Linked DNA regions of Homo sapiens. The protein of the gene in region 3 interacts with the protein of the main gene of each other region in a pairwise test. Each region holds a gene or a part of one and is shown on either strand. Other genes may lie near its edges.

What was found.
Region 1: the proteins of SFT2D1 (region 3) and MST1 interact in binary tests that used the Homo sapiens proteins (3 or more experiments, as listed by UniProt).
Region 2: the proteins of SFT2D1 (region 3) and TARS2 interact in binary tests that used the Homo sapiens proteins (3 or more experiments, as listed by UniProt).
Region 4: the proteins of SFT2D1 (region 3) and PLEKHB2 interact in binary tests that used the Homo sapiens proteins (3 or more experiments, as listed by UniProt).

The regions. Positions count from the first base shown.
Region 1 is NC_000003.12:49,683,413-49,686,477, forward strand, and holds the end of MST1 (hepatocyte growth factor-like protein isoform 1 precursor), read right to left. Parts: coding exon 2,901-3,065; coding exon of another isoform or gene 2,896-2,900; intron 2,781-2,895; coding exon 2,650-2,780; intron 2,551-2,649; coding exon 2,448-2,550; intron 2,321-2,447; coding exon 2,184-2,320; intron 2,095-2,183; coding exon 2,059-2,094; intron 1,971-2,058; coding exon 1,850-1,970; coding exon of another isoform or gene 1,810-1,849; intron 1,678-1,809; coding exon 1,600-1,677; intron 1,544-1,599; exon of another isoform or gene 1,473-1,543; coding exon 1,326-1,472; intron 1,245-1,325; coding exon 1,138-1,244; intron 1,042-1,137; coding exon 902-1,041; intron 778-901; coding exon 616-777; 3' UTR 535-615; downstream 1-534.
Region 2 is NC_000001.11:150,482,520-150,490,427, reverse strand, and holds the start of TARS2 (threonine--tRNA ligase, mitochondrial), read right to left. Parts: upstream 3,010-7,908; 5' UTR 2,978-3,009; coding exon 2,912-2,977; intron 2,571-2,911; coding exon 2,374-2,570; intron 1,465-2,373; coding exon 1,341-1,464; intron 1-1,340. UniProt on the Homo sapiens protein: Catalyzes the attachment of threonine to tRNA(Thr) in a two-step reaction: threonine is first activated by ATP to form Thr-AMP and then transferred to the acceptor end of tRNA(Thr). Also edits incorrectly charged tRNA(Thr) via its editing domain.
Region 3 is NC_000006.12:166,319,207-166,325,561, forward strand, and holds the end of SFT2D1 (vesicle transport protein SFT2A), read right to left. Parts: intron 5,390-6,355; coding exon 5,331-5,389; intron 3,681-5,330; coding exon 3,651-3,680; intron 1,051-3,650; coding exon 1,011-1,050; 3' UTR 522-1,010; downstream 1-521. UniProt on the Homo sapiens protein: May be involved in fusion of retrograde transport vesicles derived from an endocytic compartment with the Golgi complex.
Region 4 is NC_000002.12:131,129,304-131,136,340, forward strand, and holds part of PLEKHB2 (pleckstrin homology domain-containing family B member 2), read left to right. Parts: intron 1-1,417; coding exon 1,418-1,457; intron 1,458-3,598; coding exon 3,599-3,688; coding exon of another isoform or gene 3,689-3,712; intron 3,713-7,037. UniProt on the Homo sapiens protein: Involved in retrograde transport of recycling endosomes.

The DNA.
Region 1 (3,065 bases), on a different chromosome or scaffold from region 3:
AGGGCAGCAGGAGGCTTTCTGGGCTCTGGACTCCACGGATGCGTGGGCAGAGGAATGTGGGCTATGTAGTCATAATAAATTAGGACACAGAGCCTGGTTCCTGCTGGTACTTTGTACCAAACCATCCCCAACCCCACCTCCCACTCTGGGGTGCAGAGACCCTAGGTTCTGGGTGTGGCAGCCACAAGGGCTTCATCTGCCTCCAGTGTGAGAAGGGAGGGAACAGTGAGAGGCTTAGCCTCTGCCTGTCCTGGCAACCAGGACTCTGTACCAGCCTAGCTTCCCTGCTGCAGCCCCTTCCATTAGCAACTACTCTGTACCACCCTTCCCAAGAGTATGTCTGGAGGACTAGTGTGAGGCCCTGTCTTTCCACGGCACCCATGGGCAAAAGTAGTCCCAGGGACATTGCCTTGGTTGGGGAAGCCCCTAGGCTGGACAGATCACCTAGCCCAGGGTGTGCTGGGCTCAAGCCACCCGAGCCCTAGCAAGGAGTCACTGACACATTTCCTGGAAGCAAAGGCTAAGAAGCATCTGTACAGGCATAAAGAGGAAACATGGCTTTATGTCTGACAAGAAGTTTTGTCCTCCCCAAGGCATATGGCATCAAGGCTGGGCCTAACCCAGTCTCATGACCTTGTGAATCCAGTCCACAAACACAGAGACACGCGTGAAGACAGCTGGCCAGCGGGACCTTGCGCATACTCGGTTGGGGATTATAATTCCTTCCAGGACCCAGCAGTTGTGGGTAAAGCAGGCAAGTGGGCCCCCGTAGTCACCCTGGCAGGTAGGAGAACTGATGAGGGCCCCGGGCCACAGCAATGACTAGCCTGCTTCATGATAAAATAGTTCATTTCTAGCCCCCCATACCCTTCCAGGGCTGGCCCAGGGCCCTGCCACCAACCTCACAGGCCCCCACAGGGGCCAACAGTCCCTCAGTGCACATCTCACTCTCCCGCACACGTCCTCGGTGCTTGATGTTACACTCCTGGTTGGAGATGACATTCAGCAAGGCCACATTTAGGACTGTGTCATTACCCGTACCTGCAGTGAGGGGAATGGGGAGAGGGAGAGGGTCCTGCAGGAAGATCCAGGGCTGGGCCTCCTGGCCACCAGCAGTCCTGTGCACTGTGCTCTTACCTTTGGTCTCACCCCAGCCTGCAATCTCACACTTGGTCCCTGGAGGCACCACATACCATTCAGGGGGCAGGCAGATCAGGGCCACACGCTGGTTCAGGGTCACAGATCTTTAGCAAGAATGGGGGCACTCAGGGTCTGAGGCCACAAGGCCCAGCCCCACCTCACACCCTCCCAGGTTGTCCACATACCTCTCCAGCTTGAGCAGGACAAGCTGGGAGCCTGAGGGCCCACACACCATCTTGGCTACTGGGACCCGCTGTAGGCTTGGCTCTCCATGCTGTGGGTTCTGGAACAGGGTGCCCAACCATACCTCATAGCCCGTGAGAGGCATATGGCTGGGAGAGAAGCTCTGCTAGGTCATTTGTGACTCTCAGTCCATTGCCCCAAGGCTCACTTGTTAGCTTGCCTGGGGAAGGGGGAAGGTGGGATGAGACTGGGTCCCCAAACACAAGGGAGGCTCACCAGGAGGAGAAGCACTGCCGGGCAGTCAGTATCCACTGCTCCTTCACTAGAGACCCCCCGCAGAAATGCTGGCCCTGCCTAGAGGAGTGGGGAATTAGGACAGGTAACAGACTCCTGGGACAGATGCTAGACCTGCCATCTTCTGGCTAGGACCTCTGGGGGCAGGGATAGATTCCCAGCCCCCAGTGGGATAACCACAGAGGACACAACCTCAGCTCCTCTCTGTGGGAGACAGGCAGTTGTGCCTCACCGATTCCGCAAGCTGACTGTCCAGGGTGAGTTGCCCGGATGGCCCCCAACCACGCGCAGCTTGGAACGCCGCTGATCCAGCCGATCCACCCTCTTGCCACACTTCTCAAACTGCACCTGGTCTGTAGGATGGGGTGGGCTGGATGAAACCCAGACTGTGTGGATGTCGTGGGCTAAAGGGCCTGACCCATAACTGGCCCAACTCCTAACCTGGGGGGTCCAGGATTGATGGCGGCTGGTCATCAGCTGAAAGACAAAGTTCACTGGGGTTAAGGGAGCCAGCCTTTGGGTGGGGGCTGAGGCAGGGTCATGGGGGAAGCGTCACTAGTGCTCACCGCAGCGTCGCAGGGCACAGTAGTCGAATGGGGTCCTTGGGTCCATCGTGTAGCACCAGGGCCCATGGCTATCCCCATCTGGGTTCCGGCAGAAGTTCTCCTCCAGTTGTGCATGCGGTTCGGAGGTAAACGTGAACCTAGGCGGAAGCGGGAGCAAAATCGTGGCAGGGTAGTCTCAACCATTTCCAGGCTCTGGTCCCAGACACCAAAGCATGCCGCCCCAGGGTTAGGGCCCTGGCGGGGCCGGGAGCACCAGGGACTCACTGCGGCTTGTGCGGCGTCTCAGCGGACCAGCGCTGGCACTGGACACCCTTGCGGGTCTTGCTGACCGTGCCGCGGTACTGCTCCCCTGCGCCGTGGTAGCAGTCTGTGGCGGGTGCGGGCAGCCATCAGGCCGAGACCTCGCCCCGGCCCTCCGGTTCCAGGCTTCCAGCCCGGCTCTGTAGCCCCCAAGCTTGGGCCTCACCCTGGGGCCGCACGTCGTCTGTACAACGCCGGATCTGGTAGCAAAAGGCCGCGCGCATGCCGGGCCGCAGTGTGAAGCACCAGGGCGCCTCTGAGCCGTCGGGGTTCCGGCAGAAGTTCTCCCGAAGGTCTCTAAGCAGGCGCTCCACTCAGCCCTAGCCCGCCAGCCTCCAGCCTTGAGCCCGTGACTACCTTCCTCCCGTCTCACCCGCAGCAGCACGTCCCAACGCCCGCCCCCCCCCCCCACCTCACTTGCACGCGTATTTTTCTGGCGTAAATCGGTGCTGATGCGGGATTTGCGCGTCCCAACGCTGGCAAGGTACGCCCGCAGTGGTGGTATTGGCTGTGCCCCGGTAGCCCTCACCCTTCCCGCGGAAGCAGCTGACAGTTGTGGCCTCTTGGCGGGGCTGTGCCTCG
Region 2 (7,908 bases), on a different chromosome or scaffold from region 3:
AAAAAAAAAGGCTGGGCACAGCAGCTCATGCCTGTAACCCCAACACTTCAGGAGGTCAAGGCAGGCGGATCATCTGAGGTCAGGAGTTCGAGGCCAGTCTGGCCAACATGGTGAAACCCTGTCTCTGCTAAAACATACAAAACTAGCCAGGCATGGTGGCGTGTGTCTGTAATCCCAGCTACTCAGGAGGCTGAGGCAGGAGAATCACTTGAACCCGGGAGGTGGAAGTTGCAGTGAACCAAGATCGCGCCACTGCACTCCAGCCTGGGTGACAGAGTGAGACTCCATCTCAAAAAAAAAAAAAAAAAAAAAAGACTGAATAGAAAAGAAAGAAGGCCAGTATTTTTTCTTCTTTCAGTGCATAGAAGCTCCAGCCCCACCCCTCAATCCTTGGTTCTTCCCAGTTCCAAAGCATAGAAGCTGGAGGCCAGTCAGTCTTCTGCTGCTCCTGTAAGCTTTTAGGGCTTCAGAATAATTTTTCTTTTTGAGACGGAGTCTCGCTCTGTCGCCCAGGCTAGAGTGCAATGACGCGATCTCAGCTCACTGCAACCTCCGCCTCCAGGGTTCAAGCAATTCTCCTGCCTCAGCCTCTCAATTAGCTGGGATGACAAGTGCTCACCACCACGCCCAGCTAATTTTTGTATTTTTAGTAGAGACGGGGTTTCTACTATGTTGGCCAGGCTGGTCTTGAACTCTTGACCTCAGATGATCCACCTGCCTCGGCCTCCCAAAGTGCTGGGATTACAGGCGTGAGCTACTGTGCCTGGCCAGAATAAGCTATCTTCTTAACACAGTGGTTACTTAGGTCTCTGTTTGGTCTTTTAGTCCTATTTTTTTCTGTCCCACGAATCTAGTGCGATATATTCCTCTTGGATTTGGTCACTATTTACACATAGATGGCAGGAGAACTCTATTTTTCTGGATCCTAATAGGCAAGGTCTGTGCTACCTGAGCTGACATGAAGAAGACAAGGTGGGGAGGTGACCAGGTTGTTTGCTCAGCTGTATAAGCCATGTTAGAATTGAATATACACTACAGATGACTTATAATGTACGTGCTCAAGAGTTGAGGGGGCTGAATTTACATATTTATCCTTTCGTTTTTTCAACATATCATCTCTCTCCCTCTCACTAGCACAAATGTTTGCTTAATAGATCGAAGCTAAGTTAAAAACTTTCACCATAAGTTTCCTAACCAGAAATAGTCAAGACAGTCTGTGGTAGGTCTCCCTCCCAACTGCAAATGGAGAAACTGCGGCAAAAGAATAAAATGTTAGAATTTCCTGCTTCAATATCTCTTGGTTTAGTAGTCACTGTATTCCTGATAAGAAAGAAACTTACTGCTTTCCCCTCTGGGGAATCGAATGTCAGAAATCTGAGGTCAGAATCTGTCTCCAAGGGCCGCTCCAGATCATAAGGTTCTCCATTCACTTGAGCAGCCACTGCAGTATCTGCCAGTGTTGAACTTCAGCAGTGGAAGGTGGGGATGAAGAAAAAGACAGGGTTACAAGGCACAAAAAGGAAAATATCACATGTTCTGATTCCTATATGAGAGTTTAAAAAGTTGATCTCACAGTGGTAGAGAATAGAGTGATAGTTACCAGAGGCTGGAAAGGATGGGGGAGGGGAGATGAAGAGGTTGGCTAATGGGTACAAAAATAGAGTTAGACAGAAGGAATATGCTCTAATGTTCCATAGCAGAGTTGGGTGAATACAGTTAATAATAATTTATTGTATATTTCAAAATAGCTAGAAGATTTGAAATAGTCCCAACACAAAGAAATGATAAATGTTTGGGGTAACAGATATCCTGAACACCCTGATTTGATCATTACATATTGTATGCATATATCAAAATATCACATATACCCATTCATATGTTCAATTATTATGTATCAATTATTAAAAAGTAAATTAATGATTTAAAACAGACAGGGTTACAATCCACAGTGGGGAGAAAGTTGCTCATCTCTCAGCAACTGTAAACTTGCAAAGGTGAAATGAGTTACCAGAGCAACAGAAGCTTTCATTTCTTTCCCCAATGAAAGGACAGAGACTCTGATGCAGAAACTAATACAGATAAAACAAATCTCAGGCCGGGTTTGGTGGCTCATGCCTGTAATCCCAGCACTTCGGGAGGCTGAGATGGAAGGATCGCTTGAGCCCAGGAGTTCAAGACTAGCCTGGGCAACATGGAGAGACCCCGTCTGTATAAAAGAACAACAACAAAAAACAAAAACAAAATCTTCAGGAAAGGCTATCTTAATGGGGACGGAACAGAAACAAGCAGACCAAGTTTTCTTCCCCTGCTCAAGTGAAGAGAAAGTAAAGGGGCAGAAGGATAATCCTGGTAGTTACAGGATGGGCCTGTTACCTGATCTGCCGGGCTAGTTGGTAGGGGGTTGTGTTCCATGCCACAGCATCAATTTTCTGGCCTCCAGGAAGTGATATCTTAATAGTCCGGGGTTCCTTCTGTGCCATGCTTGCTAATCTCTTTACCTGAGCAGCCCACAGCTCCTCAAAAAGGCCAAGCCGCTCTGCCAACCAGCGTGGAGGGGTCGACACAACTGCCTGGAGGGAAAGATATATTAGCAGGTAACACACGTCCCATCATTCTTTCTTAGAATTGCAGATGATGGCACTTTGGGATGGTTAAGTGGACTTCGTCCGAATTCCTACTTTTTAAGGGGATTGGGTGATACAAGACCCTAGGCTGGGGGTCCTTCGAGCTCAGAGTCCCCCAGACCGCTAACTCGAGAATTAGATAACGAGTTTAGATACGAGTCCTTTTCTGGGGACTCGGAGGACCAGGGAGAGGAGGAGTGGCGTGAGGCTGGGTTAACATAAAAATTTGGGGGCTTCGGCTGGGCTAAGTCTGATGCGGATCGGAGCTTTGGGGGTGCCTCACGCACCGTGTGTAGCCTGCAAGCCTGTAAACCTTGGAGCCGGAGACACCGCCACCTCTGATACAGGGCCATGTTCCTTCACACCAGTGCCTACATCCTCAAACAGATTATCGCCGCTTCTCCTCCACGTAATTCTTCATTGGCTTCTGGTCCAACAAAGTCCGTGTCTATTGGTTACTACAGCTGCCACTCTAGTCTGGCACCACCTCCAGGAACTCCGAAGAGGTACACCCTACACAGCACCAGCAGCGGTGTGAGTGGTTCCGGCTGACCGGAAGACCGAAAATGTAACACACCCTCGCTATTCCCCCAGACCCGTGGCGTTTCAGCTGAAACCCAAAAATAGCAATTAGGCGTCCTGTGGCTTTGAGGACAAGGGCAGGTGAACTTTTGAGGGCGAGAGTGGGAGAAAACCAGACAGGAAATGGTAGTAATTTCCCTTTAACTATACATTTTATTTTACGTGGTCCTTACAGCAAGTAGCAAAACTTAAGAGCATAGACTGGGGAACCAGACAGACCTAGTGTAAATTCTGGATCTGCCATTAACTATGTAATTTTGGGAAAATTATTAAACTTCTCATATTTATTTAATAGAGACCGGGGGGGGCGGGAGGGGGGGGCGGGTCTCACTATGTTGGCCAGGGTAGTCTCGAACTCCTGGCCTCAAGCAATCCCTCCCCTCCCCCCCACCAAACCGCCACCGCGCTCCGGCCTCCCAGAGTTCTGGAATTACAGGCATGAGCCGCCTTGCCTGACCTATTTAATTTCTCTAAGCCTCAATTTTCTCAACTATAAAATGAGAATAGTGTTGCTCCCAATTGTTGAGTTAAATTTTATGTAAATCGTCTAGTGTGGCCCATGGTTTTTTGGTAATGGGCAAAAGCAACAAGAAGCTATTATGATAAATGACTGTAACAGTTTTATTTTTTAATTTTGAGACAAGGTCTCACCGTTGCCCAGGCTGGAGTGCAGGGGTACAATCATGGCTCACTGCAGTCTCGACCTCCTGGGCTCAACTGACCACCTCAGCCTCTGGAGTAACCACTTTAAAGCTGGAGCAAAGATGGCCGCGCGCAGTGGCTCACGCTGTAATCCCAGCACTTTGGGAGGCCGAGGCAGGTGGATCACCTGAGGTCAGGAGTTCTAGACCAGCCTGGCCAACATGGTGAAACCCCGTCTCTACTAAAAATACAAAAATTAGCTGGGCGTGGTGGTGGGCGCCTGTAATCCCAGCTACTTGGGAGGCCGAGGCGGGTGGATCACCTGAGGTCAGGAGTTCTAGACCAGCCTGGCCAACATGGTGAAACCCCGTCTCTACTAAAAATACAAAAATTAGCTGGGCATGGTGGTGGGCGCCTGTAATCCCAGCTACTTGGGAGGCTGAGACAGGAGAATCGCTTGAACCCGGGAGGTGGAGGTTGCAGTGAGCCGAGATCACGCCATGCACTCCAGCCTGGGGGACAAGAGCGAGACTTCATCTCAAAACAAAACAAAAACAAAAAAGCTGGAATCAAGAATCTGCAGAGGTCAGTTTGAGTCCCTTTATACTCATGGTGCTTAATAGGGACTTTATAGACCTTTTAATCTTTTTTTTTTTTTTTTGAGATGGAGTTTCACTCTTGTTGCCCAGGCTGGAGTGCAGTGGCGTGATCTCGGCTTACCGCAACCTCCGCCTCCCCAGGTTCAAGCGCTTCTCCTGCCTCAGCCTCCCGAGTAGCTGGGATTACAGGCATGTGCCACCCCAGGCCCAGCTAATTTTGTATTTTTAGTAGAGACAGGGTTTCTCCATGTTGGTCAGGCTGGTCCCGAACTCCCAGCATCAGGTGATCCGCCTGCCTCAGCCTCCCAAAGTGCTGGGATTACAGGCGTGAGCCACCATGCCCGGCCGAGACCTTTTAATCTGACAGATGAGGAATTTAAGGTCAAACAGCAAGTGCTGATGGTGATTTCTGAATCCAAGCTTGGTTTTCTTTTACCACACCATGCTTTCTCTAGAAGAGTTTGCTCCCAGTATACTCCCCCATCACCTCAGAAAGAGGTGCCTGACTAGAATTTTAGCTCTCTGCTCCCTACATAAGCCCTTTGCCTCTAATTCCTATCCCAGCTCTCAACTTCCTTTATCCTTTCTCTTCCCTCTCCCTGATACATCTAGGACACAGGACTAGGTAAATTTCATCAAATTTACTCAGTAAATATGGGAACATGGTCAGATTTGTAGTAAAGTATGAAGGGAAACTGACTTGGGGGTAGCCATCAGGCTGTCAGTAATTCTCATTAGTCCCCTCACCTGGAGGTGGGGATGGTTAGAGTTGGTTCTGAAGTTTCAATGGTGATAGAATCAAGGGTTGTAGAGGAAGAGGTGTCAGAAAAAGCAGTTTAATCAAGGTTTCCGGAGAGACCAGGTTTCCCGGGCAGGGCAGTTGATCTGAGTCACAGGAGCCTCCATGGATCTTGGGTCCATCTTCTGGTAGACACCCTGAAATACAAAGAGAAAGAGACAAGAGTGTGGGAGAGGAAGATAACTTGTGTGTGTGTGGTTTGGAGAAGGTAGTTAAGAATTTTTAAATGGCATTCAGAAAGGGTGGCAACAGGCAGAATTCTTCTCATGCCTCTGCACCAAAAGGGGAAAGGTGTATTGCAGGCAACAAAATGGTAGGTGCCCAATAATTATTGAATCAAGTATGTACCAATCACGGTATTGATTTGATGCTCTCATTTACTAACTGCTTACTGTGTGCAATGCAGTGAGCTGGGTGCTGAGGGGATGCCGATCAATCAACTACCACATCATCACCTATGTAACTTGTGTTGCAGTGGAGGAAGGAAGGAATGTTGAGTTATTCCATCCGCCCTCTGTAAGAAGCAAGCAAGCAAGTAAGCAAGTGCAAGAGCAAGCTAAGGCCAATTCATGAGTTACTGGTTCTTCTACAACTTCGGACTTGTGACTAGCATATGCCTCAGTATTGGGGAATTTTAATCCATTAGTCAGCCTAGGAAACATCTATTCTTTTTTTTTTTTTTTTTTTTTTTTTTGAGGTGAAGTCTTGCTCTGTTGCCCGGCTGGAGTGCAGTGGCATGATCTTGGCTCACTGCAACCTCCGCCTCCTGGGTTCAAGTGATCCTCCTGCCTCAGCTTCCCCAGTAGCTGGGATTACAGGTGTACGCCACCACACCCAGCTAATTTTTTTTGAGTCAGAGTCTTGCTCTGTCGCCGAGGCTGGAGTGCAGTGGCGCTATCTTGGCTCACTGCAACCTCTGCCTCCCGGGTTCAAGTGATTCTTCTGCCTCAGCCTCCTGAGTAGCTGGGATTACAGGTGCGCGCCACCACGCTCGGCTAATTTTTGTATTTTTAGTAGAGACAGGGTTTCACCATGTCAGGCTGGTCTCGAACTCCTGACCTCGTGATCCGACCACCTTGGCCTCCCAAAGTGCTGAGATTACAGGCGTGAGCCACTGTGCCCGGCCTGTTTTTTGTTTTTTGAGATGGAGTTTCACTCTTGTTGCTCAGGCTGGAGTGCAATGGCACGATCTTGGCTCACTGCAACCTCCGACTCCCAGATTCAATCGATTCTCCTGCCTCAGCCTCCCGAGTAGCTGGGATTACAGGTGCCCGCCACCACACCTGGCTATTTTTTTGTATTTTTAGTAGAGATGGGGTTTCACAATGTTGGCCAGGCTGGTCTTGAACTCCTGACCTCAGGTGATCCACCTGCCTTGGCCTCCCAAAGTGCTGCGTTTACAGGCGTGAGCCACCATGCCTGGCTTGAAACATCTATTCTTAAAACTTGGGCTGTTGCCCCTCCACCCTAGACTACTACTGAACACCCGGTGCTATGCCTTCACTATTTCACCTAATTCCTAAAACAACTATGTCAAGTATACTCCCTTTAAAACAGGAAAATGATTCTCAAAGAAGTAAAGCCCCCAGTCTATCTGAATGCAAAGCCCTTGTTGTTTATGCTATGCCATACTGCCTCTCAGGGACCAGATTGGTCATAATGTGTCAGGTTATAAGATTCTGATACTTGTGGCCAAATAGGCCTTTGATATAGGGTAAAAGAGGTGGGTCCAATAGAAAGCCAAGAAAAGAGGCGTCTTCCGACTTTTCTCTACCAGATTAAGGTTAAGGAAAAAAGTGTGCACAAAATAAAGCTAGATTTCCACAGAAGTGCAGGAAAAAGGGAATCCACAGTGAAGGGTGTCCTAGGCCCTTAGTAAAATTTTAGGAAATTCTCAGCTTAACTCCACTTTTGGAATAGAAATTCCAAGGTGACTAGAGTCCTAGTTCAGAAGGTATTGTTTTTATAGCTTTAAACTACATGTAACTTTAAACTACATGTAAATATTTTCCACTTGTCCTCAGGATCAGCACATACCTCCAAATCTATCTTACTTCTTAGAAGCACTAAAGATGTAGAAAGTATATTTGGCTGGGTGTGGTGGCTCACGCCTGTAATCCCAACACTGGAGGCTGAGGCAGGCGGATTGCTTGAGTCCAGGAGTTCGACAACAGCCTGGACAACATAGTGAGACCCCCATCTCTACAAAAAATAAAAAATTAGCTGGGCATGGTGGTATGTGCCTTGGGAGGCTAAGGTGGGAAGATTGCTTGAGCCCAGGAGATCCAGTGCAGTGAGGCGTGATTGCACCACTGTACTGCAACCTGGGCAACAGAATGATACCCTGTCTCAAAAAAAAAAAAAAAAAAAAAAAAAAAAGAGAAGGCAGAGGCCGGGCACAGTGGCTCATGCCTGTAATCCCAGCACTTTGGGAGGCCGAGGCGGGTGGATCACGAGGTCAGGAGATCGAGACCACCCTGGCTAACATGGTGAAACCCCGTCTCTACTAAAAATACAAAAAATTAGCCGGGCGTGGCAGCGTGCGCCTGTAGTCCCACCTACTCGGGAGCTGAGGCAGGAGAATGGCGTGAACCCGGGAGGCGGAGCTTGCAGTGAGCCGAGATCGCACCACTGCACTCCAGCCTGGGCAACACAGCAAGAC
Region 3 (6,355 bases):
CTCAGCTCTCCTCTAAGCTGACTGTGCATAAAATGCTGCTCCCATTACCCTGTTGTATGCTCTTTATTAACTCTCCCTACCCTGGACAGACATAGAGCCGCCTTCCCTCCTGCTGGCACCACATCATGCTGGCACCCGCCTATCTGCCTCTCCCTGGCAACTGAGGAGACCAGGACAGCCAGTGGGAGACTTGCAGGGAGGAGGAGGGCGCTGGCTAGTTCTCCGCCCTCTCTGCTTCTCCTCCAGCCTGGGGTGAAGGTAGCTTCCTGCTGCCACTACTGTCCAGTGGCCTGACTTCTCCTGACACCCTCACAGTCAATGCCGCCTCACCTCCTCCCCCTGCACTTCCTGGAATGGGCTCTGCTGTCAGTCCCATTATCTCTCACAATTTGTATTTAACAGTATTATTTAGGGGAGAGACTGTATCTTCCTCATTTTTCTACAGAGAGACTGTATAGTGCCTAAACTAAATATTATTGAATTGAGTCACTTAAAATATTATAAATTTGATTCAGAAAATGTTATTTTTCCAAGGATGGGTTTATTTCAAAATTGTAAAGATTTATATATTATTTTTATTACATATAATAAGCAATTTTTAGCTTAAAATAAGTTTCACATTTAAAGTAAAAAAAATCTTAAAAATGCAGACATTTTTTAAAAGCAAAAAAGTTTAATTATCTTGCAGCACAGGTCTACCTTTAAATATTCACATTTCAAAGCTGCTTTGAAAAGATTTAAAAATTGGCTAAAAATAATTTACAACTGGCAGTGATTAAAAATCTTATCTTTGGAAAAGTATATTAATGACACATAATGAATTTAAAGTTACAAGCATTTAATGGTTTAATCAAGCATGTAGTTTTTACCAGTATACAAAATGAGACTTAGTACAAAACGGTCTTCAACTGTCACGTCAGTTGTTCCTGGAGTGTTTTATGGGGAAAAGCAAACTTCACCAAACATAGAGTACCAACATTCAAGTGCTCTTTTCCACAAGTTTCTGATTTTCAACTTAGGAGAGAAGAACAGCATTTAATAACTGCATCCCTGGTGGAAAAGAGAGGGAAAAAAACAGAATATAATATTCCTCAAAAGCAAAGTTGCGCAAAATGTTCCTGCTAAATCACCTTTTTTAACAGAACTCAATGGATGCTCCAACACACTTTTTGATTAATAAAAACTTTGTTCAGTATCATTTAAGATTAAGAGCTAAGATTTGAAAACATTTTGCTGATTTTTGACATGGTATTTATCTTAAGAAATTTTTACTGGCATATACACTGATCTCAATCAAAGAAATAAGTTTAAATACCAAAAATAACCTAACAAAAGATCTAACTTTTTTCTTTTTTTTTCCTTTTGAGACAGGTTCTCACTCTGTCTTCCAGGATAAGTGCAGTGGCGTGAGCAGATCCTCCCACCTCAGCCTCCCAAGGAGCTGGGACTATAGGGCACACCACTACACTAATTTTTTTTTTTTTTTTTTTAATAGAGATAGGGTCTTGCTATGATGCCCAAGCTGGTCTCAAACTCCTGCGCTCAAGCCATCCACCCGTCTCAGCCTCCCAAAATGCTGGGATTACAGGGATGAGCCACCAAGCCCAGCCCAAAGATTTAATTTTTAAAAAGAACTAGGCCAGGCAAGGTGGCTCACGCCTGTAAGGCAGGTGGATCACTTGAGGTCAGGAGTTCAAGACCAGCCTGGCCAACATGGTGAAACCCCATCTCTACTAAAAAACACAAAAATTAGCTGGGCGTGGCAGCGGCAGCACGTGCCTGTAATCCCAGCTACTCAGGAGGCTGAGCCAGGAGAAACTCTTGAACTTGGGAGGTGGAGGTTGCAGTGAGCAGAGATCACGCCATTGTACTCCAGCCTGGGTGACAAAATGAGACTCCATCTCAAAAAAAAAAAAGAACTAATGAACTGAGTTTCAAAACTGTAATGTTTATAACTGAATCCTCAGAATTAAAAGAAGATTGAAGTGTGACCTTTCATATTTTCTTCCAAAACTGTTATTACTTGATACTTCATTCATTAAAAAAGCTTTTACCTAGGCCATAAAAAATATCCACTAATAAAATTCTTATAGGCAAAATCTGTACATTGCTTATTGCTCTCGAGTGTGGGATCCTGTGTCTGGAGAGGCTGGTCATGTTCTTGAAGTCCTGCCATCTCTTCAGAGCCTCTTGTATGGGACATCACGTCTAGAGGTCCTTTCCTCCGCACCAAGAAGTATTGGAGGTCTCCTTGCTCTAAAGTTCCTATGCATGGTAAATTACCCTTGCACACTCCTGTTAAGCAGCTTTCTCACCTGTAGCTAACTTTGTTTTGCTTTTTCTCCTTGTAAGTATCTATCAGAAAGAATCATACATTTGAAATGGAATAAAAATAAAATTTCTACCAATTTCCTTCACTGTTCGTATTAAAGACAATTTTGCTGTTTTTAAATATATAACATATCTTTGAATTTCACAAACAGGCAAAGCTGTGCCTCACCAGAATCTTTTTCTAAATCTATCAGATTTAAAATTGGAACTAGTTTTGTTTTCTCCTCCACGGCTAAATACATTTCTCTGGAAAAATATTTTAAAATGCCGGTTACCTCTTGACATACAATTAAAATGTTTTTGCTGACCAAAAATAAGCATTTATGTGTAAGCCCTCATTTTCCCAGTAACTTCCTTTTTTATTGAGATGGAGTCTGGCTCTGTCACCAAGGCTGGAGTGCAGTGGCACGATCTTGGCTCACTGCAACCTCTGCCTCCTGGGTTCAAGTGATTCTCCCACCTCAGCCTCCCAAGTAGCTGGGATTACAGGCGCCCACACCACACCCAGCTAATTTTGTATTTTTTAGTAGAAACGAGGTTTTGCCATGTTGGCCAGGCTGGTCTTGAACTCCTGACCTCAAGTGATCTGCCCACCTTGGCCTCCCAAAGTGCTAGGATTACAGGTGTGAGCCACCGCACCCAGCCGTAACTTCCTTTTCTTAAGTAGAATTTGTTTTCCTGGAGTCTCTGTGTCCTATTTTCTGAACTCCTAAAGCCATGGAAGGGTCCAGAATCTCATCCACATTCCCTAGTGCACGCCAGGCAGCAGGGCGGGAGGATACTCCCCACAGAGCTGCTCCATGTCGCCAAAATGTTTCCATACAGACATTATCATGGCAAGCTGCTATTCATCTCATTGAAAACATGTTTACTGCCGGGCGCGGTGGCTCACGGTTGTAATCCCAGCACTTTGGGAGGCTGAGGCGGTAGGATCACAAAGTCAGGAGATTGAGACCATCCTGGCCAACATGGTGAAATCCCGTCTCTACTAAAATACACAAAAAAATTAGCCGGGCATGGCAGTACGCGCCTGTAGTCCCAGCTACTTAGGAGGCTGAGGCAGGGGAATCTTGAACCCAGGAGGCAGAGATTACAGTGAGCCGAGATGGTGCCACTGCACTCCAGCCTGGCGACACAGTGAGACTCTGTCTCAAAAAAAAAAAAAAAAAAAAAAGTATGTTTATTTCCTTTTAGGAAATTAAAATCAACCAAAAAAAAAGGGTTTAAATAGTATTTTTATGTAAAAATTACTTAAATTCATATATTTGTGTGAAGATAAGTAAAGAACCAGAAAGAAGACAAGATTCAAACAAGCTTACCTTGCATATGGGATGTACGACAGGCTATACCTGCAAGAAATATTCAAGCATGTTGAATCTTCATCTGAATGATGGTTTTCCTTTATGCCAAAAGGCCATGTCTAACCTTATAATAAATACAGCAGCATGAGACTGTACAGTGGTTCTCAAAGTGTGACCCCGACCAGCAGTGAGAGCATCATCTGGGAACTTGTTAAAAATGTAAATTATTAGGTCCTACCTTAAACCTCCTAAATCACAAGCTTGCTTTAACAAGCAACCTGCACTTTAAACAAACTCTCTAGGTGATTCTGGTGCATGCTAAAGTTTGAGCTTCTTATAATAAAATAGAAACTGTACCACAACTGATAATTATAGTCTCCTTTAGGGATAAATCAATTATTAGTTACAAATTAGGCAATAAAAGGCAAAATACTAGAGAAAATAACCAAGAGATTAAGTTTCTTCACATATCAGTGAAAAAAAGTAAAGAACATTTTATGGTGAATTTGAGATATACAGAGAATTACATTTAACATTCACTGATGTTTCATCTGTCAGTAGAAAGAAGGCCGAAAGAAAGGTGATCCCAAACTGGGTAATGTCGAGTAAGAGGAATGTAAAATGGCAAAACCAGGAAGCAAAAATTAGGAAGCAAGAGCTGCTCTAAAGGAAAAGGAAAAGTACTCTTCACTAACACAGAAGAGCGCAGGAGCTGCAGGGCACGTTTAATCAACCACCCAGATATTTATGGCCTTTATGCAGATGAACTCTTACTGTGCGAGACACAAAAAGGCTACAAGGAGGACAGTCTGAGCAGAAACCAGGACATGACTGAATCTTCACAAAAGTGGACTGGGAAAGGCAGTGCAGGTGAAGCACCTCTGATCTGAAATGATAGGAACTAGAAATGTGTTGGATACTGGATTTTTCTGGATTTTTGGAATATCTGCATTACATTTACTGGTTGAGTATCAACCAAATCTGAGCATCATGTCAGCGTTCAAGAAGTTTTGGATTTGGGGCTGGGCATGGTGCCTCACATTTGTAATCCCAGCTACTTGGAAGGCTGAGGCACGAGAATCACTTGAACCCGGGAGGCAGAGGTTGCAGTGAGCCAAGATAATGCCACTGCACTCCAGCCTGGGTGACAGAGTGAGACTCTGCCTCAAAAAAAAAAAAAAAAAGTTTTGGATCCTGAAGCATTTTGGATTTGGGATGCTCAACCAGTAACTTAAGAAGTATTTAATCACTGCCAATTCAGAAGACATCTCCAGATATCACAGGGCCACAGAGTCAACATCAGGATAAATTCCACGTTGTATTTATCCAGCAATAGAGTGGAGAATGCAGGTAAACTCATCTTCCCTTGGACTCACCCTGTGATTTGGTCTCACTTTTATGTACTCACATGGCATCACCTACTTTTCTTATTATTTCTCTTTCTCACATTAGAAAAAAGCAGAACATATCACTATGTAACTCTACGAGCACAGCACCCCATACTTCTCCCGAACAGTACCACTGAGCCACGCTGTCAAGTGCAACAGGACTCATCGCAGACCTCCCCTCCTCTGACCCTGCAGGGCCTGTCTGGCTCCAAAACACCAGACGAAATGCTAGGGCTTCACAGGTCCCAAACAAAATGCTCGTCACGTCTCAGGCAATTTTAACACTTCACTAGGGTAAGGAAAGACTTACCAGGTCATTGACAAGAACTGCAATATGCAGAATAACACAGCCAGTCCCTTCTTATGCCACTAACAACAGCAAAAACAGAGCAATTATGAGTTTCAAAGTTTTAAAAACATCTTTCTCAATCAAACTTAATTCTTGTCTTTCAAAAATGTAGATGATGGCTTCATTTATCTTTATTAAATTTTAGTGTGATAAATTTAAGATACAGTTGATCTGAAACTTTAAAACCCAAAAAATACATTTCCTTTCTAAAACTATATCCATTAATTTAAATACTGCAAAATATATGACTTTAAATAAACGTTACTGAAACAATTGTGCATAGACTGAAAACATTAGACTTTTAAAGGTGGTTAGGTCTTTAAAGTCAATGTTAACTTATCTAGAATCGACATGTAAAATCCCACTGAGATCTGTATGCCCCATGTGAAATTTACTTATTTTACTCATTCCCATTTGCTCCTTGAGTGATATTTTGAAGGAAAATTGTATTTTATTGTGATCTTCTGGAATAATATAAACAGTTTCCATGGTTGTTTTAAAATATTTTCAGAATTCCTTGTCCATCAGTGCTTTTTTACTTATTTATCTTCAATCTACTGTTTATAAGTAAACAGGCAATTCCAAAACCAAAAATCAAGGTTCTATAGAGAGGTGCAAGTTAAGAATATTCTTTTATCATTAAGAAATGACACGTAAATCAATCTCATATAACTAAAGTCCTGTCCTTACATCATCAAAATAAAAAAAAAACTGGAATATTTCTGATAGCATTCTAAAATATCTACCCTTTCTTCTTTAAAATGGGACTTTTCTTGTTGATAGTTCAAGAACTGCTTCAAACCCATTTGGGAAATAGGTTGAGTACAATAGAAAAATATGATGTAGAATCAGGAGATCAAGAAGTAAACGGAATTGTAACAATGTGACTTCTTTAAAGGCTAATGAACAGCTGTTAACCTTCTCCACAGGGTAGGAGAATGATTTCAGTTCCTCTCTTTGTTGTTACTATCTGTGTTTTCTGGCCC
Region 4 (7,037 bases), on a different chromosome or scaffold from region 3:
AACAGAGTGAGACTCCATCTCAAAAAAAAAAAAAAAAAAAAAAAAAAAAGAAAGCCAGAACACTTGAAAATAAGTGAATGAATCTTTCAACTCAGGGAGATAGTAAAATGAGAATAAAACATAAAAGGAATTGATGAAGATAAGAGGGATAGGGTCAGTAAGAAAAGTAAGGGGTAAAGGAGTGAGGGAGTGCACAAGAGAACACTATTTTGTTTTTTGAGATGGAGTTTCGCTCTTGTTGCCCAGGCTAGAGTGCAATGGTATAATCTCCGCTCATTGCAACCTCTGCCTCCCGGGTTCAAGCACTTCTCCTGCCTCAGCCTCTGGAGTAGCTGAAATTACAGGCATGTGCCACCACGCCCAGCTAATTTTGTGTTTTTAGTAGAAGCTTGGTTTTACCATGTTGGCCAGGCTGGTCTCGAACTCCTGACCTCAGGTGATCACCTACCTTGACCTCCCGAAGTGCTGGGATTACAGGCGTGAGAGACTGCTTTTTGCCTATGAATTAAGAAAGCTCTTGTGATACTTAAGGTTCAGATATCTAGTTTTTTTTGACAATATAGTGTAAAGTTGGTAGGTATAGAGATTGTTAGAATCGTTTTGCAGGGCATTTTGGCAATACCTGCTGAAATAAATTATGTTTTTATCCTTTGATGTGGTATTTTCAGTCTTTGGAATTTGCCCTGTGGAGATGTTTACATAAGAGTGTAAGGGTAATAGGGATGTTAATAGCATTCTTTTCTTCTTTTTTTTTTCTTGAGATAGAGCCCCTCTCTCTCATCCAGGCTAGAGTGCAGTGGTGTGATCTTGGCTCACTACAGCCTCGACCTCCCAGGCGCAAGCTATTCTCCCACCTCAGCCTCCCAAGTAGCTTGGACTGCAGGCATGCGCCACCATGCCCGGCTAATGTTTATATTTTTTGTAGAGCTAGGATTTCACTATGTTGCCCAGGCTGGTCTTGAACTCCTGGGCTCAAGTGATCCCCCTGCCTTGGCCTCCCATAGTGCTGGGATTACAGGTATGAGGCACTACATCCGGTCCCCAGCATTCTTTTTAATGTTGAAAAATTGCTAATCTAAATTTTTTACTCATATCGTGGAATATTATATAGCTGGTAAAAAGGAAGTAGATCTGTGTGTATGCCATGAACTGACAAAGCAAGTGGCAGTACATTTCACATTTATTAAAAAGTAAAGTAAAAAGTATAGTATAGATTATGTTTTAAATATTACATATCTATTATGTATGTAATTTTTAAAAATATATATTCCTAGTGCATGTCTCAAGTGGTTTGGGGCAAAGCCTGAAGACTTGTTTTTTAAACAGATCTTTTCAGGAATTCTGATGCCAGCCCAGGTTTCAGAATCATTGCAATGTTGGATTGCCTTAAATAAAGTACCCTTTTTCTTTTCTCCAGGGCCTGGAAATTTACACTCCAAGATTCTAGGACAAACACAGTAAGTTGCTAATGGCAATCACCAATAATTTTTTTTTTTTTTGACAAGGTGTCACTCTCACTCAGGCTTGAGTGCAGTGGTGCTGTCTCACCTCACTGCAGCCTCTACCTCTCGGGCTCAAGTAGTCCTCCCACCTCAGCCTCCCCTTCCCAGTAGCTGGGACTATAGGCCCATGCTACCACGCCCAGCTTATTTGAAAAAATTTTTTTGTAGAGACGAAGTCTCACTATATTACCCATGCTGGTATCCAACTTCTGGGCTCAAGTGATCCTCCCACTTTCGCCTCCCAAAGTGCTGGGATTACAGGCATGAGCCACCACACCCGGCCACCAGTAATGTTTTCACATGGTCTTGTGTAACAATTGGAGAATGGGGAAAACGGGTTTCTTGACCATCTGGCCACGAATGGGCAGGTAGTGCTGGGCAGGGCGCCTTTTGCCAACAGTGAGCAAGCTGGGTTTGTCAAATGTTTGGCAGGAGGCACCCTGCTCTTACAGGCATGCTTGTTCCAGTGTTGCTTTCTAGAAATGCTTGTATTTCTCAAAGTTCTGCAACACTTTGAATTGTGCTGTGGTTTGCAGTAAAGGCTTAGAAAGAACTGCAGGATCCTTTTCACGCATGGGAGCTCAGCCTGTGAAACAAACATTTTTGTGACTTGTACTTGTCTCTCGTCCTGTTTCTGGCCTTAGGAGGTCACTGAGACAGTGAACCTCATTTGTAGAGCCTCGTAATGCTGTCTTTATCTGTCAGTGATCAAGGGAGTGTGTTACTCTGGTCAGAGTTTTCATTCTTTAGATGGGATTTTTCTCTCCTTTATTAATCTGTAAGAAAAGAAGAAGGTGGATCAAGCTTACAGAAGAATGTGTGCATGTGGGAGAAGAAAGTAAAAGGCTTAATATCCTAATAGCGTCAGTGTTCTCTTCCTTTGTTAGCACACAACAACTTCATTCTAAGCTTACTCTACAGCCGCAGTTACCTTTTCTTCATGAAAATCCCCCTTTTTTTTTTTTTTTTTGGGTAAAATTAGCATTAACAATCCATACAGTTAAGGGCAAGCTCCCCAAATGATTCTTTGTGTGGATTTTTTTTTTTTGAGACAGTCTCACTCTGTCGCCCAGGCCAGAGTGCAGTGGAGCGATCTCGGCTCACTGCAACCTCTGCCTCCTGGGTTCAAGCAGTTCTCCTGCCTCAGAATCCTGAATAGCTGGGATTACAGGCACGTGCCACCACGCCCAGCTAATTTTTGTATTTTTAGTAGAGATGGGGTTTCATCATGTTGGTCAGGCTGGTCTCAACTCCTGACCTAGTGATCTGCCTGCCTTGGCCTCCCAAAATGCTGTGATTAAAGGCATGAGCCATTGCGCCTGGCCACTTTTTCTTTTTTTTTAAAGAGCTAACATGTTTTTCTTTAAATTATACTGGGGAGTAATTTAATGAAGAATTTTGTTTTTTAAGGTAAAAAACAGACTTATGTATAGGACATATCTCTTGATACATTTTAGATTGTAGAGTTTTTATTTGTGAATAAAGGACTGTTGAGAGTGCTGTAACATCTTTATTTTTTTGGAGACAGTCTCGCCTTGTTGCCTGGGCTGGAGTGCAGTGACTTGATCTTGGCTCACTGCAGTCTCGAGCTCCTGGGCTCGAGTGATCCTTGAGACTTAGCCTTCTGAGTAGCTGGGGCCATAAGCACCATGCCCAGTTAATTTCTTGTTTTTTGTAGAGATGAGCTCTCCCTCTGTTGCCTAGGCTGGCCTTGGAACTCCTGGGCTCTAGTGATCCTCTCACCCAGCCTCCCCAAAGTGTTGGGATTATAGGTGTGAGCCATTGCACCTGGCCTGATGTAACATCTTTTAAAAGGCATTGGGTAACAGTGGGGCCTCTGAGTGCCTTCCTGGCTGTGAGAGCTGTAGTCCTGTTAGGGGCCGAGTGAGGACCACTTTGCTCTTGCATTTAGAGGATACCAGAATAGGGGTGGGGGCCCCCACTGGACTGGGGGAGTTTTTCCTGTTTTGCAGAGAGCTATGTATCTTTTTGTTTTTTTAAATTTTTAATTTGCTAAATAAAAGGGACAATGCACAGCATCGAGCACACAGCTGCTGGGAAGCTGTCCTGTCCTCACCCTCTCCTGTCTCCCGCAGGCGTATGTGGGCTCTGCAGTCATGACCGATGAGACATCCGTGGTTTCCTCACCTCCACCATACACGGCCTATGCTGCACCGGCCCCTGAGGTAGGGAGAACCCTGAGCCTCCAGGTGAGGGAAGTTTGGGGTCTCTGCTGCTGTCCTGCTTTGTTTTGTTTTTTTAAATGAAATTAGAAATGTACTCTAAACCTTTTCTTCTTAAAACAGATGATTTCTTATCAACGTTTGTTTTCATGAAATGAAGCAACTATTTTATATAGTTCAGCACATTATAATGTGCTGTATTAATGTGTAACACGTTTTTAAGATAGATCTAAAAATGCATCATGTTAATGATAGTTGCCTTGGGTAATGAGATTTTGATGATCTGTAGTTTATATGGAATGAATTATTTGAATTCTCCTTATAGTCAGAAAAAAATGCTATATTTTAGGGAAAATAACCTTAAAAAATCATGTCAAATACATTGGGATGTCCTCTTGTTGGGGTGCTGACTGAGCTAGTGGAACGTATGTAAGTCTGTTGTGTGGAACACGCAGCTTTTAAAAAAATTGAATTTTGAAATAATTATAGATTCACAAGAAGTTGCAAAGATAGCTTTGAGAGTCTCATGTGCTTTTTATGTGTTTTCCCCATTTGTTAATATTCGATCAAATTAAACCCAGGAATTTGGAATTGGTGTGGTATTTAAGAGTAATCCTGTGTCATTTTCTCATACGTGTAGATTGTGTAGCTACCACCTCAATCAAGATAAAGAATTCTTCACAAAATCTTCCTGCTGTGACACCCTTTAATAGTCATGCCATCCCTCTGCTTCCCTAAACCCTGTCAATCACTGAACTGTTCTCCAGCTCTATAGTTTTATCATTTCAACAATGTCATATAAATGAAATCATATAGCACGTGGTCTTGGGAGTTTAACGTTTTTCACTCAGTATTTGCCCTTGAGATCTGTCCAAGTTGCTCTTTGTCAATAATCCTTTTTATTGCTGAGTGGTTTTTTTTTTTTTTTTGGGATGGAGTCTTGCTCTATCGCCCAGGCTGGAGTGCAGTGGCTCGATCTCGGCTCACTAAAAGCTCCGCCTCCTGGGTTCTCGGCATTCTCCTGCCTCAGCCTCCCGAGTAGCTGGGACTACAGGCGCCCGCCACCACGCCCGGCTAATTTTTTGTATTTTTAGTAGAGACGGGGTTTCACTGTGTTAGCCAGGATGGTCTCAATCTCCTGACCTCATGATCCGCCCACCTCGGCCTCCCAAAGTGCTGGGATTACAGGTGTCAGCCACTGCACCCGGCCCTTTTGAGATGGAGTTTCGCTTTTGTTGCCTATACTGGAGTGCAGTGGCACGATCTCGGCTCACCACAACCTCCACCTCCCGGGTTCAAGCGGTTCTCCTGCCTCAGCTTCCCAAAGAGCTAGGATTACAGGCATGAGCTGATTTATTGGCTTTTCCTTTTCTCGGTTGTGCTTTTGCTGTCAGGTTAAAACTTAACATGACAAACCTAGCCCAAGTTTCCTAAGATTTTCTCCTACATTATTTTCTGAAAGTTTTATAGTGAGGTTTTATAATTATTCTGTATTAATTTTGAATTAATTTTTTATAAGATAGATGTCTTTTTCAGGGCTCTGTTGAGTGTATCTCTTTCTGAGGTCTGTGGTCTGCTCCATTGTTCTGTATTGTTACCTTCCTTTGATCCCACACAGTCTTAATTATTGCAGCTATTATAAAAAGTCTTGGAACTGGGTGGACTGATCAACACCCTCTTTGTTCCTTTTTGGAAATGTTTTAGCTATTCTGGTTCCATTAGCTTTCCATATACATTAGAATAAATTTGTTTATATCTACAATGAAATCTTGCAAGGCTTTTGCAGGAATTGCCTTAAACCTGTGTCATATTTATTTGGAGAGTAATGACATCTTTATTGAATGTTGAATCTTCCAGTTATAAACATGGACTGCATGTGTATTTAGATCCTCTTTGATTTTTTTCATCAGCATTTTGAGGTTTTCAGTATAAAAATCCCATACATGTTTTGTTAGATTTATAAGTGTTTCAGTTTTTTTAGTGATTGCATATGGTATTACATTTTTAGTTTTAGTTTCCTTTGTTTACTGCCAGTATAGAGAAATAGAATTGATTTTTGTAGGTTGATCTTGCAGCTTGTAAACTTTCTCTTTTTTTTTTGAGACAGAGTGTCTCTCTTATTGCCCAGGCTGGAGTGCAGTGGCGCGATCTTGGCTGACTGCACCCTCCGCCTCCTGGGTTCAAGCGATTCTCCTGCCTCAGCCTCCTGAGTAGCCGGGATTACAGGCACGTGCCACCACACTAATTTTTTGTATTTTTAGTAGAGATGGGGTTTCACCATGATGGCCAGGCTAGTTTCAAACTCCTGACCACAGGTGATCCACCTGCCTTGGCCTTCAAAGTGCTGGGATTACAGGCATGAGCCATGGTGCCTGGTCGGCGCCTGTAAACTTTCTAAGCTCACTTACTCTATTTCCTTTTTCTGTAGATTCTTTGGGATATACTACATAGGCAATCATGTCATCTACAAATAGGAATCTGTTTTCTTTGTAACCTTTATGCCTTCTGTTTCCTTACCTTGCCTTGTTGCCTTGGTTAGACCTTCAAATATTATGTAGAATAGCAGTAGTGAGAGAAGACATCCTTGCCTTGTTCCTGATTTTAGGGGGGATGTATTCAGTGTTTTTTTTTGAGATGGAGTCTCGCTCTGTCACCCAGGCTCTGGAGTGCAGTGGCGAGATCTCGGCTCACTGCAAGCTCCGCCTCCCGGGTTCACACCATTCTGCCTCAGCCTCTCTAGTAGTTGTGACTACAGGCACCTGCCACCATGCCCGGCTAATTTTTTTATTTTTTTTATTTTTAGTAGAGACGGGGTTTCACCATGTTAGCCAGGATGGTCTCGATCTCCTGACCTTGTGATCCACCCACCTTGGCCTACCAGAGTGCTAGGAATACAGGCGTGAGCCACCGCGCCCGGCCAGTGTATTCAGTTTTAAGTATGCATTCATTTATTATGAATGTACTGTTTAATTCAGTATTTAATTAGTACTGAATTCAGTATTTAGTTTTACATATGCATATATTTAGTATTTAATGCATTCATTAAGTATGCTGTTAGCTGGAGGTTTTTTATATTTATTCTTTATCAGGTTTAGAAATTCCCTTTTTCTAGTTTCCAGGAGTGTTTATCATGACTGGTTGTCAGTTGCTTGCCTGCCTGTCTTCCTGCCTCCTCCCTCCCTCCCTCCCTCCCTCTCTCCTTTCCCCCGCCCGTCCCCTCTCCTCCTCTCCTCTCCTCTCTCCCCTGACCCCCTGAGAGATGAGGTCTCACTCTCTTGCCCAGGATGGAGTGCAGTGGTACTATCATTAGCTCACTTCAGCCTGGAATTCCTGGGCTGAGGCAATCCTCTTG